Linked DNA regions of Homo sapiens: region 2 is linked to region 1. The links come from fine-mapping of genetic effects on gene expression. A gene starts in region 1. The other region holds a variant in brackets. All regions are shown on one strand. Distances are between the middles of the regions. Region 1 holds the start of C6orf89 (chromosome 6 open reading frame 89). Region 2 overlaps C6orf89 (chromosome 6 open reading frame 89).

Region 1 (8,334 bases):
TCACATCATGGCACCCCAGCCTGAGCAACAGACTGAGACTCTGTGTCAAAAGAATAAAATTTTTTTTTTAAATGTAGTATATACATACAATGGAATATTATTCAGCCTTAAAAAAGAAAGAAATCCTGCTATTTGTAACAATACGGATGGACCTGGAGGACATTATGCTAAGTGAAATAAGCCAGACACAGAAAGATAAATACTACATGATACCACTTGTGCGATTAATCTAAAATAGCTAAACTCATAGAAGCAAAGAACAGAATGGTGGTTGCAGGAGGCTGCAGGCAGGGGGAAACAGGGAGGTACTGGGCAAAGAATACAAAGTTTCAGTTATACAAGATGAATAACTCCTAGAGACCTACTATACAGCACAGTGCCCAGAGTTAACAATACTGTATTGTATATTTAAAAATATGCTAAGAAGGTAGGTCTTATGTTAAGTGTTCTTATTGCTAATAGTAATAATAAGTAAGAAGGCAGGAGGAAACTTGAAGGTGATGGATAGGTTGATGGCATGGATCATGGTGATGGTTTCACAAGGGCATACTTATGTCCAAATTCATCAAGCTGTACACATTAAATGTGTAAAGCTTTTTGTACAAAAATAGTACAATGAACACCTGGATATCCTTCATTTAGATTTACCAGTTGTTTACATTTGGCTATATTTTCTTTCTGTTTTTACCAGAACTACTTGAAAGTTATTTGCAACACATTATAAAATCATTTCTAAATATTTCAACATGCATCTCCTAAGAATAACGACGTTATTCTACACACAACCATTGGCATTATTGCCATACCCATTAAAATGAGTAATCTCTTAATATTACCTAATATTCAGTCTATAGTCAAGTTTCCTTAACTATCAAATTTTTTTAAAAAGATCATATAGCTATTTAAAAATCCAGGATCCAACCAATGACCACACATTGAATTTGGCTGCCATGCCTCTCTTTAATCTACTTAACTTCAGAACAAGTCCCCAGTGTGTGGTTTTTCTTTTTTTTTTTGTTTTTGTTTTTTGGTCTTTTAGGACATTGACATACTTGAAGAAGTCTTCACATTTTTAAGCTTACCTCTACTTGCTTCCATCCTCACCCTTTCCAGTTTCTACTATCAGAAAAATGCCATAATAGTTCCTTTCTAAGTTTCTGGTACTCTCTCCCTCCCTCCCTTCAGAGGAAAGCTCCTTTGGGGGTTGGGGGGAGAAAGTAACACACTTTCTTGTTTCTCAGGTTTCCATTCATTTATTAACCTGTTGAAATCATATTTCTGCCTCCTCACTCCACCGACATTGCTTTCACTGAGGCCACAAATGGCTTTCTAAACGCCAAGTTCGAAGGACGTTTTTTTCAGTTATTACCTTATCTGACCTCTCTGCAGCAGCTGCTGTTGCTACCCCATTATCTATCTCCCTCAAGTGTACTCAAACCTTAACATAATTCTCTCGTTCTCTGCTGGTATCCACCAGTTATCCTTGACCTTCTTATTCCCTCCAACACTTTGACCACCAGCTATTGGTGATTCCCAAATCTCTTCTCCAGTCTACAACTCTCTCTAGGGTTCAAGACCCATTTATCTACCTGCCTACCAGACACGGTGATCCAAGTTTCCCATAGCTCCCTGTATGTAATGTGTCTATAACCCAACTTACTGTTTTCCCCTTCAACTCATTCCTCCCACTGCACCTCTTTTCTTAATGGAAACACTAATCCTCCAAATTTAAAAACTATTCTCCTCCTACCTCACTCCCACCAATGAAACTATCACTAAGTCCTCTTGATTCAGCCTCCTATATAATTCTCACATTCATCCCTTCCTCTCTACATTAACAGCACAGTTAAGGTCTTCAACATCTCTCCTATGGACCATCACAAAGATGTAGTTAATCTCTATACTTCCAGTTCTCCTCTTCCCCAATCCATTCTCTACCTTGTCCAGTTTTTTATTTTTATTTTCTGAGACAGGGTCTCACTCTTCGCTCAGGCTGGAGTGCAGTGACATGATCTCAGCTCACTGCAACCTCTGTCTCCTGGCTTCAAGAGATTCTCGTGCCTCAGCCTCTGGAGTAGCTGGGAGTACAGGCACGCGCCACCACACTCAGCTAATTTTTGTATTTTTCTGGTAAAAAATGGGTTTCACCATGTTGGCCAGGCTGGTCTTGAACTCCTGACCTCAAGTGATCCACCCACCTTAGCCTCCCAAAGTGCTAGGATTACAAGCGTGAGCCGCTGCACTCGGCCACTTATTTTTTTGAAACACAAATTGGCTCATGCTAAGCACCTTCCAAGACTCCCCATCCTCTGCAGGAGCAGTTTAGCATGGTGACTAAGAACACAGATACTGGAGTTGGAAAAAGCTGGATGCAAATTCTAGATTTTACCACTTACTGTGTGGCCATGAGACACTACTCATCCTCTCTAAGCCTCAGTTTTCATGTATAAAATGGGGATAATTATTTCTACCCCACAATGTTTTATTTCAGAGAATTATAAAATGATGTAACACATTTGTTCCAATAGCCAGACAAATTAAATACCTAATAACAATCATTTTAAGATAAAGTCCTAAGTCAAGCATGGTGGTTCATGCCTGTAATCCCAACACTGGGAGGCTGAGGTGGGAGGACTGCTTGAGCCCAGGACTTCCAAGACCAGCCTGGGTAACATAGCAAGACCCTGTATCTACAAAAAAAATAAAAATAAAAATTGGCCGAGTGTGGTGGTGCCTGCCTGTAGTCCCAGCTACTTGGGAAGCAGAGGTGAGGGGTAGCTTGAGCCCAGGAGTTCGAGGCTGCAGTGAACCGTAATAGCACCACTGTACTCCAACCTGGGTGATGGAATGAGATTCCTGTCTTTTTTAAAAGATAAAGTCCAAATTACTTACCATGGCCCTTTATGATCTGGTCACTGCCTACCTGTTCAGTTTCATTTCCCATCAATCCTTCTTCACATTCTACACTGTCATACTATTTCACATCTTTTTGCTTTTGCATACACAATTTCCTCTGCCTAAAAAGCCTAGTCTCCAGTGCTTTGTCCAATAAGTGAACTCTTTAAGACTCTGACCTCAGTTTTTGTCCTATGCACCTCTAGGGCTTGGCATTACATCTATTTTCCTGTCTACCTCCCACCCTAAATAGTGTTTCTTGAAAGCAGAGATAAATGGAGAAAACACAAAAAACTAAGAACAGACGTGGGAATTCACCTCAGATGTGGAATCAGATCAATGTTGAACAAATTTATAGAAAGGACCTAAAATTATCATTCCGAACTAATTGAATGTAACTCGTGGCTCATGGTTTATTCATTTTATGTTTTATTATTTTATTCATTTTTAAAAATGCAGAGGTCGGGAGCCTGAGGCAGGAGAATGGTGTGAACCGGGGAGGCGGAGCTTGCAGTGAGCAGAGATCACGCCACTGCACTCCAGCCTGGGCGACAGTGTGAGACTCCGTCTCAAAAAAAAAAAAACAAAAAAACGCAGAGGTAGCAACAATGTGATGAGGGTTTAAGGTTAGCAGGTTAGGAATCTAGCATTTGGACATTGTTTCTGGTGTGTGGAGTAGCTGTGGAGGAACAGGTATTCAAAGCAGGTCTTGAAAAATGCCTCAGTCCAAGGCAGAAAAGGTCTGACAGAAACAGGACCTCTTTCTGGTATGCAAGTTGGGCTACATGAACCTTTAGTCAAAACTTCAATGTAGCAGAATTGAATTTATTAGTTATTATTTTAAAGGCATGTTATTCCCTAGAGGGAAATTTTGACAACCCAAATTCAAATGAACGAATTTATTAAGGGAGAGACGTCTATAGAAGATCCCACCACAGGAACTACCAAATGAGCCATCAGAAAAGTCAGAATACTAAGTATCTGGAAGTAGTCTCTATTATAAAGTGATTTATGACTAAATACTTTAAAAGAAACATATTTGCGAATACAAAGGCTATGAGGGCTCTGAGACTAGAAAGTGTGGCCTGCACGGTTAACAGTCTTAAAATACTACAAAACACGACGCAGGCAAATTTCCTTCTACTAAGAGGTGATTACAAACAACTATTTTACTTGTGTCAAGAAACCAAGTCATATTTCTTTCTGAAATCCAAGATGCCAGGTTTATCACATACCAAGTACACATTTAAAGAAAAAAAATTATTGCCCCCTAACGATTATTAGAAAAAGATCTTTCAGAAGGGGGTGGGGAATCTACTCTTAATTTCTTAAAAATTCCGTCAAAAGGGCAGAAATCTGGACTTCATTAGCAACGCTCAAGTTATGGACACTGCTGTGATGCCTGAGAACCAAGTTCAAGCAAGGTCCACCTCGTTTTGCTCTCCCCGGCGGAGTCAAAGAAAGTGACAGATGTCTTAAGGGAGTCGACCCCGGGGGAGCTGCCAGGGGATGCTGTCAGTCTACAAAACTGGAGAGACTGAGAAAAGGGATCCGCGCTGGGATAGAGGGTGGTAGCAGCGGCGAGAAGCGGCTGCGCGAGGATGTCAGAGACGGGCGCGGCGAGGCTGTCACAGGGCGGCCTCCCCCCACCCAGCCTCGGGCCCCAGTCACTCACATGCGGGGCTCGCGCCCCTCGGGCTCCTCCCGCCTCGGGGACAGCTGCCGCCGGGCGAGGAGGATGGGCAACTTCCTGTTTCCGGGAGCGCGACCCGGAAGCAACCCCCCACTCCTGGGCGAGGCCTTGTACCCTAGAGTAATTCCTCCTCTCGTCCAGCGCTTCCGCCCAAAACAGAACACTCAGTGTCGTGGCGAGCGCGGGACCTCTCGCGATATCTGGAGAGTGTAGGTTCTTGCTCCCCCTGGCGTCCTTCTTCCGTTCTGGCTCTTTTCGCCCCAGTCCTAAATCCTTGTCTTCCTAATTTACCTGGACTGGCTCACACAGACTTCATAGCTGAACTGATCCATAGAACAAGCATTTACTGAGTCCCCTACTATGTGCCAGGCAGCATGTTAGGCATTAAGGGATGGGAGTGGAAGGGAAATGTAAATGAAGAGCAGCCCCTTCCTTCTGGAAGCTACTACTCTTGAGAAAGACGAACAAATCCCTCCAGTTTTCACTCAGCCCACTCATTAGTGAGAGCTTACTCTGTTGATAAAAGAAAAACTTAAGCCGAATTAAGTATAAAGGAGTTTAATTGAGCAATGGAAGATTCACGAATCAGGCAACCCCCAGAATCACAGCAGATTCACAGACTCCCAGGGTGCCTCATGGTCAGAACAAATTTATAGATAAAAAAGGCAAAGTGAGGCACAGGAATCGGAAGTAAGGTACAGAAACAGTGAGGTTGGTTACAGCTCGGTGTTTGCCTGATTTGAACGCAGATTGAACATTCAGCAGGCTGTGAGTGGTTGAAGTATGGCCGCTGGGATTGGCCACCACTCAGTTATTGTTACAGGTGTATACTATTAAGTTAGGTTTTCAATTTTGTTTGACTATTAAGCTATGTTACAGTTCATCCACAAGGACTCAAATATAGAAGGACAGAGTCCTTCTCAGGCCATATTTAGTTTGCCTTAACAATTCCCCCGTTTTGGTCATTTTCTCAATTTTGAGAGATTGACCAAAACCTTGGTCATTGATGTTATTATCGCTGTCATAAGTGTACCTGTATGGTTTTGAAACTCACTAGGAAACAGTAGAACAGTGGGTTTTGCAGGAAGAGAATAAGGGCTGAGTAGAGGATACCTCCTTATTCTGAAACATCTGTTTACAGGAGAAAAAACCTGGTCTGTTCTAGCATTTTGTGTTTTTTTAAAGCCTTGGTTTGATTATGTCACATTTAGCATGAGTGACTCCATTTTAGTTTGGTTTGGTTTGTTGGTGCCTAGTGCATGAGCTCAGTCCAAAATAATGGCCTCCCATGATTTTGTTTAAAAAAAAATTCCTCACTTTTGGCCAGGTTCTTACTTAGGTGACAGCGTGACCAGAACTTAGGGCCTTAGCGCCACTCTCAGTTACATCATTTTGGGTTTCTGGTCTCAGCATGTCATTCATAGGTTACGGTGCCTTCATGGTCACACATTTCTTTCAGTTTTTGTTATTCCAGTTGAAAAGAGATCATTTGACGTTGTAGAGATGGCTGCATGCAAGCATTTAAAATCTTTGAGAGAATACAGTGCACCAGGGAGACTATTATTATCATTATCGGGCGGATAATAGCAAGAGTTTGGAGTATGCTCCTTACCCAGGGTCCCCATAAGCCAAACCACCTAAAATTAAATAGATTGAAGAATGAGTTAGATGAAGAGTCTCCTTGCTTGACTAAGTGGTCTTTTCACTAATCCCCTACAACTGGATATTTATTTTTATTGTATTTATTTTGTGAGAGGGAGTCTTGCTCTGTCACCAAGGCTGGAATGCAGCGGCGATCTCAGCTCACTACAACCTCCACCTCCTAGGTTCAAGTGACTCTCCCGCCTCAGCCTATTGAGTAGCTGAGATTACAGGCACCTGCCACCACGCCAGGCTAATTTTCATATTTTTAGTAGAGACAGGGTTTTGCCATGTTGGCCAGGCTGCTCTCAAACTCCTGACCTCAGGGGATCCGCCTACCTCTGCCTCCCAAAGTGCTGAGGTTACGGGTGTCAGCCATCACGCCCGGCCAGAATTGTTTATAATTTACATTTGCTGTATTTCTCCATAGGCCACAGGTGTCAACAGCTGCACAGGTACTTTTCTGTTTAGCCAATTCTATTACTTAGTATAATTTTCAAAGGAGAATTTAAAGTCTGTTGTGTAACGATAGCCTTTAAAGTAGAATTTGCTGTAGAGCCTATTATGAGGGAGACATTTCAAATTATTGCCTCTTTTATTCTAAACCATGGAAAAAGGACCTAACAAATGGATGTCTTTCTAGAAGAGTGAAGGCCTCTTGTCAATGTTCTCTTTAATCCATGATGTGGGTTAAGAGGAGTTTTGACTGATTATGAGGCAATGTATGTACCACTAAAGTTTGTTACCTACATTGGGCCTTCATCTTTTATCTATTGAAATATAAGGTTATTCATGTTTAAGGCTGGCTGCAAAATCCTTCACAAATAAAAGTATACCCTATAAGTGCATATAATAGACCCACTTTTAATTTCTATTGTTCATAGAGGCATAAACAAGGAAAAAATATTCAAAGATAAGAGTCTTGTGATAGTAGAAGTTTTGATCTATGATCTTGGGAAAAGCTATTCTAATCAAGGATGCCATCTTCTGGGGAGAAACTTTTCTGGTTAGTTTTACCTTAAGGGTTCCAATGGATGTACAGTTCCAGGAGTGTGGAGGGACCCTTCTCAGCTGTGAGATTATGAACCCAAGGTTTAAAGCTCCAAAGTTTTGCTGTAGTGTGGATGGCAAGGACAGTCTTTCTCTTTCTCTGGTGTTCTCAGACGATCCAATCTGCAGGTTCTAGATTGTGAAGGGATTGTCCTCAGTGAATCATAAAAAGTTTTCTTTGTCTGGTGAAAATACACTATAATCTACTGTTATAACATCAGCCCTATTGCATGGGAAAGCTTTTATACAACCAGAAAACATGCATTGAAAATGACAATTCAGGCCGGGCGCGGTGGCTCACGCCTGTAATCCCAGCACTTTGGGAGGCCGAGGCGGGTGGATCATGAGGTCAGGAGATCGAGACCATCCTGGCTAACAAGGTGAAACCCCGTCTCTACTAAAAATACAAAAAAAATTAGCCAGGCGCGGTGGCGGGCGCCTGTAGTCCCAGCTACTCGGGAGGCTGAGGCAGGAGAATGGCGTGAACCCGGGAAGCGGAGCTTGCAGTGAGCCGAGATTGCGCCACTGCAGTCCGCAGTCCCGCCTGGGCGACAGAGCGAGACTCCGTCTCAAAAAAAAAAAAAAGAAAAAAGAAAAAAAAAAAAAGAAAATGACAATTGAATGAAATCTCTTTATAAATGTTTAAATGGCCCATCAGGTAGCCAAACGCATCTGAAGCTTTGATCGTCTTTCCAGGAATATGGAACCAAACATTGGATTTAAATTATTTCTGCAATTTATAAGTCACCACATCAATATATTAAATTTGGATTATTTTATCTTTTCCAGAACGTTTAATAACAAAAGCTTTAAGGACTCAAGAAGGACAAGGTGGCCATCCTGGTTCTTCATGAGTCCATGCTTAACACGGGACTTACGTCCTCTTGAATACCAGTTGTTTCTCCAATTTAGGTGCATAGCACTGATAGCTAATGGGTTATCATAGGTAATTTGACTTAGACCATGGAGTTCATTCAAATTGTATATTTAAACAATTTTAGTATTGGCTTATTTAGCATGATAATCTAGAGCTTGATTTTGAAAGGTTTGTTAAA
Region 2 (8,334 bases), 32 kb before region 1:
CTGGTCTCGAACTCCTGACCTCAGGTGATCTGCCCGCCTTGACCTCCCCAAGTGCTGGGATTACAGGCGTGAGCCATCGCGCATGGCTTTAAAAATTTTTAATTCAGTGATTTTAGAGACAGGGTCTCGCTTCATTGCCCAGGCTGGAGTGCAGCGGTGCAGTCATAGCTCACTGCAGCCTCAAATTCCTGGGCTCAAGAGATCCTCCCAACTCAGCTTCCTGAGTAGCTGGAACTACAGGCGTGTGCCACCACGCCTGGCTAATTTTGTAATTTTGGGTAGATACAAGGTCCTACCATCTTGCCCAGACTGGTCTTGAACTCCTGGGCTCAAGCAATCCTCCTGCCTTGGCCTCCCAAAGTGCTGGGATTATAGGTGTGAGCTACCCTGCTCAGCCCCTAACAATGCTGTCTTGTACACTTAAAAATTCGTTGAGAGGGTAGATCTCATGTTAAGTGTTTTTACCATAAGAAAATAAAATTTTAAACAAAAAAAATCTCTTGATGGGAAATTTATTCTAGCGTACTATGGGCCCTGCTCATCTTTAAATGAAGAGCACTGAGTAGAATTCAACTTTTACTTGGTGACTTGGTCATGATGGGCAATGACTATCCTGTACAGTGACTGCAGATGTTGTACCTGACCCCCAAAAGGTTTTCTGGTGATCTGGAACCCCTCTCCCCTCCATCTCCACAGGAAAATGTACATTTTGTCAAAAATCATAGAACTTGCATGTCATGGTGCCATTCTTAAGGGTCCCTAAGGTAGAGGAACCGCCATCTGTCCTGTAACACTGAATGATTCTTCTTGGTCAGGGTCTGCTTTCCTGTCCTCATTGTTAACCGTGGCAGTGACAGCCATCATGTCTATTTCTGTCACTGCTTCAGGTGCTCGCTGGCTTCCCCACCCCTCCCTGCCCCCATTCTTCTCCCAGACTTGCTCTCCTCTTCTTCTTCTCTTCAGTCCCCATCCATCTCTGTGTTCTGTCATGTGACTGGCCTTTTATAGACACTGCCAACTATAGGGGTCCTTTCTTTCTAGTCAACAAACCAGCCAGGCACAGCACAGCAGGTATCATGCACCGGATGTTAGGCTAATCTGGACTATCTGTACCAGCATTTGATGCTCAAGCTTTCTTGATCACTGCCAGACTTTTTTTTTTTTAATTTTTCCCTAATTCTGTAATTGGTATTCCGGTTGCTCGTGGGAGCCGGAAGTCTGGAATTCAGATAACTAAGGTGTTTCTGTAGTTGTCTGAATTGTTAGGCATTTGTAAAATATAAAACAGAAACTTGTTCAAGCACAACCACATGCTCCAAACCTAAATATGCCAGAGAGATTTTCGCAATAGTCATCTCTTGTGTTAAGAGTCACTCCATTACAGGAAAAAGATTCAGAACGATTTCCATACAAGAATCCTCGTTTTTGTAGGAAGTTTCCCAAGAGCCAGGCCAGCTGTGCTCCATTATTAGTTAATGCTTGATTTGTACCTTATTTTTATTTTTCATTTCTGAATTGAAATAAAAGTTATGTAACCTAAATTAAGACTTGGCATAGCTTGCAGTCCAATTCCTACCCTCATATGAGATGCAAGGTTTCTAGGGGCTTGGGGGTCTTCTGAATGGGTAAAATTAAAAGAAATCAATTGGAAAACCAGTCTGGGCTCTGCCAGAGACTCCAGGTCTTGCCTAGGTTTTGTGAGGCAGGAAAAGCAAGGAGGTCAATGGTGACACTCGCTGATTTATTTGCTTCTTCCAAGAAAACTCGGCTGTCAAACAGATTGCTACTGACAGCAGTGGATTCAAACCTGTTTCTTTGGAACAGATTTTTAATTAGGATATAAGGCACAGGACAAGTCACATTTGGGCAAACACTGAGCCAGGGTCAAGGGTGAGTCATCAATGTGAGGCTGTGACTTGGCTGTGGCAGCCACACAGAAGGTAACATTTCCTTGTGTGACCATTGCCCTTATATACTGCTTGGTATTGTTTTATTTGCAAAATGGGTATATATTCCTGTAGTCCTTGATTGTCCCTCTCCTGGCTTGACTGTGTTCAAGCAGGCACTTAAGACCTGACGCTCTGCTCGACTGACAGTGGGGCCTTGGGGTGGTCACCTCTCCTCTCTGGGTCTCAACCTTTTCATCTATAAAACGAGGGATTGGTCTAAATATTTTCCAGAATCCTTCCTAACTTGAAGTTTCTATGATCAATAGACACACGCATTCTATATGTTGTATGTACAAGCCATTTCTTTCTGCTATGTTTTCTCATTAAGTTGTTTCATTTCTAAGCATAAATATTGAGCCTGTTAACAGGAGAATGTTATTTTTGATTCTACTAAATAAAACTTTTGTGAAGGCAGTATGTGATTCTTAAAATAGCTTTTGAGTTAAAAACTAAAAAGATCCATTGACCCTGCCCTCCTGGGGCCCTACATACCGATATCCCCTGGCTCTATTGGCATGGCCACAGACTGACAATGTCTTCGGCACTGGAAGGGAGGGATGAGCTGCAACATGGCCTCACCGCTGCCAATGATAAATAGGTCAGGCATCTTATGCATCTGGAGGAAAGAATGAGGAGGGGAGGAAAAGGAAGGCAAAGAAAACGAAATAAAACCAGGGGGTTTAGTAAATAAAAATGCTTTCACATATGGCTCTGAGTTTCCTAGCATAAGCAAAGAGGAAATAGAACCAATAACAAAAATTTGCAATTATGTCCAAAAGACAAAAACAAACTACTTTCTCCTAAGAATGGCATCTCTTGGTACTAAGACCAGAGTAAAATCTCTTCTATGGGTTCTCCTAAAGAGGCACTGTGTGATTTAGTGGGCAATACCCTCAACGAGAGCCCCAGAGTAGATCCTGCATGAGCTTTGTAATTTGCAACTATTTTTAGCCACAGCTTCAAAGTAAGCCAAAGAAAAATACCTAATTGCAATTTAACAAAGGTAGTTCCAGCAGAAACCAGCACATGGTGGCTGAAGTATACAACATTCTGAGATTCTGGTTTGATGAAAACTTTTTAGATAAATAGATAATCAGCATATCCTTTGGGCACTCTTCCATGGAATGTTATTTCTTACTACCAGGGCCCTGATAAGAATTGTACAGCAGCAAGTTTAAGTTTACACTGCCTGGCAAGACCCAGGGGAGCAGATATGCCATGCTACCGATTAAAAACTAATGACACTAAGACTGGCCTCTGATTTTGAAAACTAAGGAGACAATCAGCATATGCACCTGCACAGGTAACTACTGCCCCTCTGAGGGCATGATACTGCCAGCAACAGGCATTAAATGCAACCTGCTATGTGCCAGGGAAGGAGCTGTGAACCCTGGGGTGGGGCTGGGACCAGGGCAAGGAATAGGGATAAAGAGAGAGATGGGTCTTGCTGGGACATTTCTCCTTACCTTGATGATGACAGAAAACCCCTAGGGCCTCTTCTCTCATCTCTTCCTCCTATCTCTTGCCCTTCAGAGAAACCCTTTATATGCCCATATAAAGTGGGAGCCAGAAGTCTGACTCCCTGGGCCATGTCTTGGTTTTCTCTTCACCACTCAGGGCCTCCAGAGTCTTGGGTTTTGGCCCCATCTTCCCCTGTCCCCAACCCTGTTCTCTCTGCTGCTGCCACAGGCCTTGCCCATAATGTTTTCATGGCAACACCAGAGCCATTTCACCGGCTAATGTGGTGACAGGGACAGCCTGGTGTCTTCAGCTAGCCTTCAGTTGACTGGTACTAATATTGGCAGAAGCCTTAACATCTGTAGTCCTCAAAACAATCTCAGAAGGACCAAAACAAGTGGCTGTATCCCTTCTTCACACAGGCCTGAAGTGGGCAGGGTCATGTTCATCCATTCCCAGGATGGGAAGAAACAGACAAGAGGGTGGCACAGGCCAGCCCTAGGCCACACCGTGGAGTGGGTGAAGTGGGCCTTGGAGGCCCTCACCTTCTCCCCGAGTGCCACTTAACAACCAGCTCCCCAATTCTGTCCCAAGGCTGCCTTTGGACACTGGGCCCACAGACACGTGACTTTAACAGGGCCCAGGGCCCAGGGCCCAGGGATGTGGACAACAGGGTGGGGTAACAAGGCTGCGGGGAAAGGGGAGCTTGGGCCAGGGTGGGGAAACAGATTCTCTAAGAAACTGGGTTCTCAAGAGTTTTGCCTGTCTGGCCACTGCCCTTCCCAAAACATCCTCGAGAACCACAGCATGACTCTCGTAAGCATTTGAGTAACTCTGTATTTACTCCTTTGGCTGGGCTCCTTGGTGTTGCACACGCTGGAGAAATTAACTTTGGTATTCAAGTGGTAAAACCAAGAGAAAGATAAAGCCGTGTCCCAGAATTATATTTATGAAGATGAAATCATACAAGGGCCTGGAATTCCAGCCGGCGACAGCAGGATAAACTTCTTTAAAATCTGAGGCAAGAGCCCAGCATCTCCACCCCAGTGCTGGCAGACAGAACTTCTTACTTCTAGACAAAATGATTGTTTTTATAGGCTTTTAAATTCCTTTAACACAATTCAGCAAATTTGGAGCCAAGCGATAGTATCAGGAGGTGGAAGCCATGGTCCAGAGGTGGCAGGGGGCCATAGTTTGGGAAATTTATTTTTTTATGAAGGAAAATGCATGCTTTTAATTCTCCCAAACCGATCCAGGCTCAAAAACCTTCCTTAGGAATGAGACTCAACAAAAGGAGCAATTCAGAGAAAAGTAAACAGACACAAATGCAGAACAGCTTCTCCCAGTCCACTGGCCCCAGAGAGGTAACTTTGGCTCTGAGCACTTGGCCCCAGACTGAAGTGGGAAATGATGGGGGCAGAGTGGGCTTTTCTACCCCAGCTGGGCTGCCTGCCTATCAAATCCTTCCCAGGCTCCCACACTTTTTGCCTTTCAAGTTCTCTACCTGAAATCTCTTAATTGTTTATTTCTGGCAAAAACCATCCTGGGGGTGAGAGGGTAAAGGGTGTGTCCTTGGGCAACTCACTTAATCTCTCTGGG[A/G]CTCAGTTTCCTTATCCACAAAATGGAGCAGTTATTCTATTCATCCACATACTATTACCTTATAGCTTTCTTTTCTTTTTTTGAAAAAATAGAGATAGGGTCTCCCTATATTGCCCAGGCTGGTCTGAAACTCCTAGGCTCAAGCAATCCTCTTGCCTCAGCCTCCCCAAGTGCTGGATTACAGGCGTGAGCGACCACCGATCATGGCTGCTTGCCTACTTTCTAATTTAAGGTAGGAAAGCCAGACTAATTGCACCCTCAAGTCCTTCAAATTTTAAGATTTCACTTCTTTTAATATAGAAAAGTAGTTTGCCTCAGGTGTTAAGGGCAGGAGGCAGATTTGCAAGGTAACTAGATTTTCTGGAAACCTGCCTTCATGACAAGGTGGGCCCCTGCAAGTCTCCTGGCTAGCAGCAGGAGGGGAGAACTAGACTGTGTGGGTGTCCCCTCAATTCACCCTGTAACCCTCTAAGCCAATATGCAGGGAAGGCCTTGGTTATGACATCAGTCCAGGTCCCAAATAAAGAAAATTCTAGATCCAAGTCCTCTCAAAATTTCCTACCTTACTCCCCACAACAGGTTCTGGGTGAAGAAAGGAGCACTTGTTTAAAGAGGCATCTTTTGGAAATGGCAGGTGAGTGAAAACAGGAAAAAGCTCACGTAACATTTGTGATCTGTTCAGAGGTCTCCTCCTGTAGAAGTATGAAACAGAAAAAAAGTAATTAAACTGGTCAAGCCAGCCCATGACTAAGAGAGAGCCAAGTAAGGGTGGGAAAACTGTGGGCGGTGGGTAAAGAGGGAAAAATATGAGTACAGTATCTTAAGTACTAGGTCCCTGAAGAATAGTTGCACAGAGTCAATGAACTATAATGTGTACACACACAGGCATAAACTCTACAGCCATGATTTGAGTATGTGGGTGGAGTGTTTCTAAATTGCAGCTAAAACAATATATATTGGAAGGAAAGAAATAATCTATTCATTCTATCTTGGAAAAGACTGAAGTAACAGCAGGCCAGGCGGGGGAAGGGGAGAAGAGAGAAGGAGGAAGGGACAAAAAGCATGACCCTTCTTCTGAGGCACAGGGAGACGCAGGGGGAAGCCTGCTCAGCTTGTTCAACTGGGCACTCTAGCACGCAAACAAACAGCACATTTAAAGAAAGATAGAAGCATTAAGAAATTAACAAAAAGCCTGAAAAAGTCATTTTAATTCTTTCGAAACAGTTCTAAGATGGAAACTGGCTTTCTTTTCTTACTAGACAGCAACCTTAACCACAAGGAATGAACCATGTCTTCCGCAGGGCACAGGAAGGAACAGCAGGACAAACTGGGGTTTCGATCCTGGCTGGGTAACCTTAGGCAAGTTACTTAATCTCTCTGTTTCCCATTTTTCTTTCTTTCTTTCCCCCTCCCCCAACCTTTTTTTTTTTTGAAACAGGGTCTCACTTTGTCGCCCAGGCTGGAGTGCAGTGGTATGATCATGGCTTACTGCAGCTTCAACCTCCCAGGCTCAAGCCATCCTCCCACCTCAGCCTCCCAAGTAGCTTGGATATTTTTTGTAGAGATGGGGTCTCCCTATGTTGCCTGGGCTGGTCTCCAACTCCCGGGCCCAAGTGATCAACCCGCCTCAGACTCCCAAAGTGTTGGGATTATAGGCATGAGCCACCACGCCTAGCTACTGATCCCCACTTGTCTGATCTGAAGAATGACAACAATCATTCCTACTTTCCAGAGTTATTATCAGTGTCCCCAGTGAGACACAGACACTAAGCACCAAGCCACACTGCCTGGCAGAAACAAGTGCCAAAAAATGCAATTCTCCTTCTATTATTTGCACTCTCTCTTCAGCCCCCTGCATGAGGCCCCATTCTACATAAAATGCTAAATGCATACTTCGAAATAAATTATGACTCTATTAGACAAACTTGCTGTCCCCCCCATGGTGGCACCCCTCCTTCTGACACACCTCTTCATCCATCCCTTTTATCTCTCATCACTGGTTTATCAGTGGGATCCCAGCATTGGATTTGTAAAGTGTTGGGCCTGTGGTAGTGGCTCAGTGATAGCTATTACTGTTTTGCAGGTATTTCTGGTCTGCCCCTTTCCTACTCGCACGCTAAGTGCCCCCATAGCCCCCCCATTTTTTTGAGACACAGTCTCACTCTGTCACCCAAGCTGGAGGGCAATGGCGCGATCTCAGCTCATGGCAACCTCCACCTCCCAGGTTCAAGTGATTCTCATGCCTCAGCCTCCAGAGTAGCTGGGATTACAGGCATGCACCACCATACCTGGCTAATTTTTGTATTTTTAGTAGAGATGGGGTTTTGCCATGTTGGCCAGGCTGGTCTGCAACTCCTAGGCTCAAGTGATCTGCCTGCCTCGGCCTCCCAAAGTGCTGGGATCACAGGCATGAGCCACTGTGCCCGGCCCTTTTCACACTCACCATGGATAAGGAAATGGGAACCACCGCTCAGGAAAGCAGCGCCACCACTTGGCGAAAAACCCTTCAGAGAAGCCTTCTGTCGCCTCAGGGTACTGGCACAAAAAATGCTGAATCTCTTCCTCCAACAGGGGCTTTCCCGTCTTGGCAAGGCAGGAAACAAAACAAAACAACACAGAGTTACTTGTCAGAAATTTCCTAGAGCTTGACCTAGCCTTTAAGCAAGCAGCCAATCAGCGGGAGACTCAGGCTTCTGCTCACCTTGATCACCAGTGGATGGAGCCTCTCAAATTTCCTTGGGGCGTCTTCCAGGAGCATCACCTTCAGGTGTTTCTGGGCACAGCCAGTGCAGTTGGCAGGAATGGGCTCTGACTCATTCTGCTCACAGTCGTTTGTCCACCAGGGGTCAAAGTCTGAGAGAGGAAGGGATATGGAGAAAACAGATACTGAAAGAGCATAGCTGGTACATCCAGTAGCTCCAACAATGAAACAAGAAAGGAAAGACATCATAATGACTTTTATTTATTTATTTATTTTGAGACAGAGTCTCACTCTGTCGCCCAGGCTGGAGTGCAGTGGTGCCGTCCAGCTCACTGTAACCCCTGCCTCCTGGGTTCAAGGGATTCTCCTGCTACAGCCTTCCGAGGAGCTGGAACTACAGGCGCATGCCACCACACATGGCTAATTTTTGTATTTTTAGTTGAAACGGGGTCTTGCCATGTTGCCCAGGCTGGTCTTGAATTCCTGGGCTCACATGATCTGCCCACCTTGGCCTCCCAAAATGCTGGGATTACAGGCGCAAGCCACCGCATCCAGCCCATAATAATTTTTAAAAACAAACAATGATAAGCACTGGAGACCGCTGAAAAGGTAAGGTATATATGAAGC

Evidence for each region. PIP is the estimated chance that this variant, and not a neighbour inherited with it, causes the effect.
Region 2: its variant is fine-mapped to the expression of C6orf89 in whole blood (TOPMed, PIP 0.92).

Annotation. Positions count from the first base shown.
Region 1 is chr6:36,882,265-36,890,598 of GRCh38, reverse strand. C6orf89 (chromosome 6 open reading frame 89) reads right to left here and starts at 4,647. Exons shown (of 9, transcript NM_001286635.2): 1 at 4,571-4,647. RefSeq lists a silencer at 4,408-4,587 and an enhancer at 4,808-4,887.
Region 2 is chr6:36,913,809-36,922,142 of GRCh38, reverse strand. It overlaps C6orf89 (chromosome 6 open reading frame 89), which reads right to left. Exons shown (of 9, transcript NM_001286635.2): 5 at 7,708-7,859; 6 at 7,450-7,589; 7 at 5,569-5,698; 8 at 2,442-2,565. Among named protein-coding and RNA genes, the nearest start is that of C6orf89, 32 kb to the right of the region's middle. The variant A/G (reference allele first, on the strand shown) is at 5,007.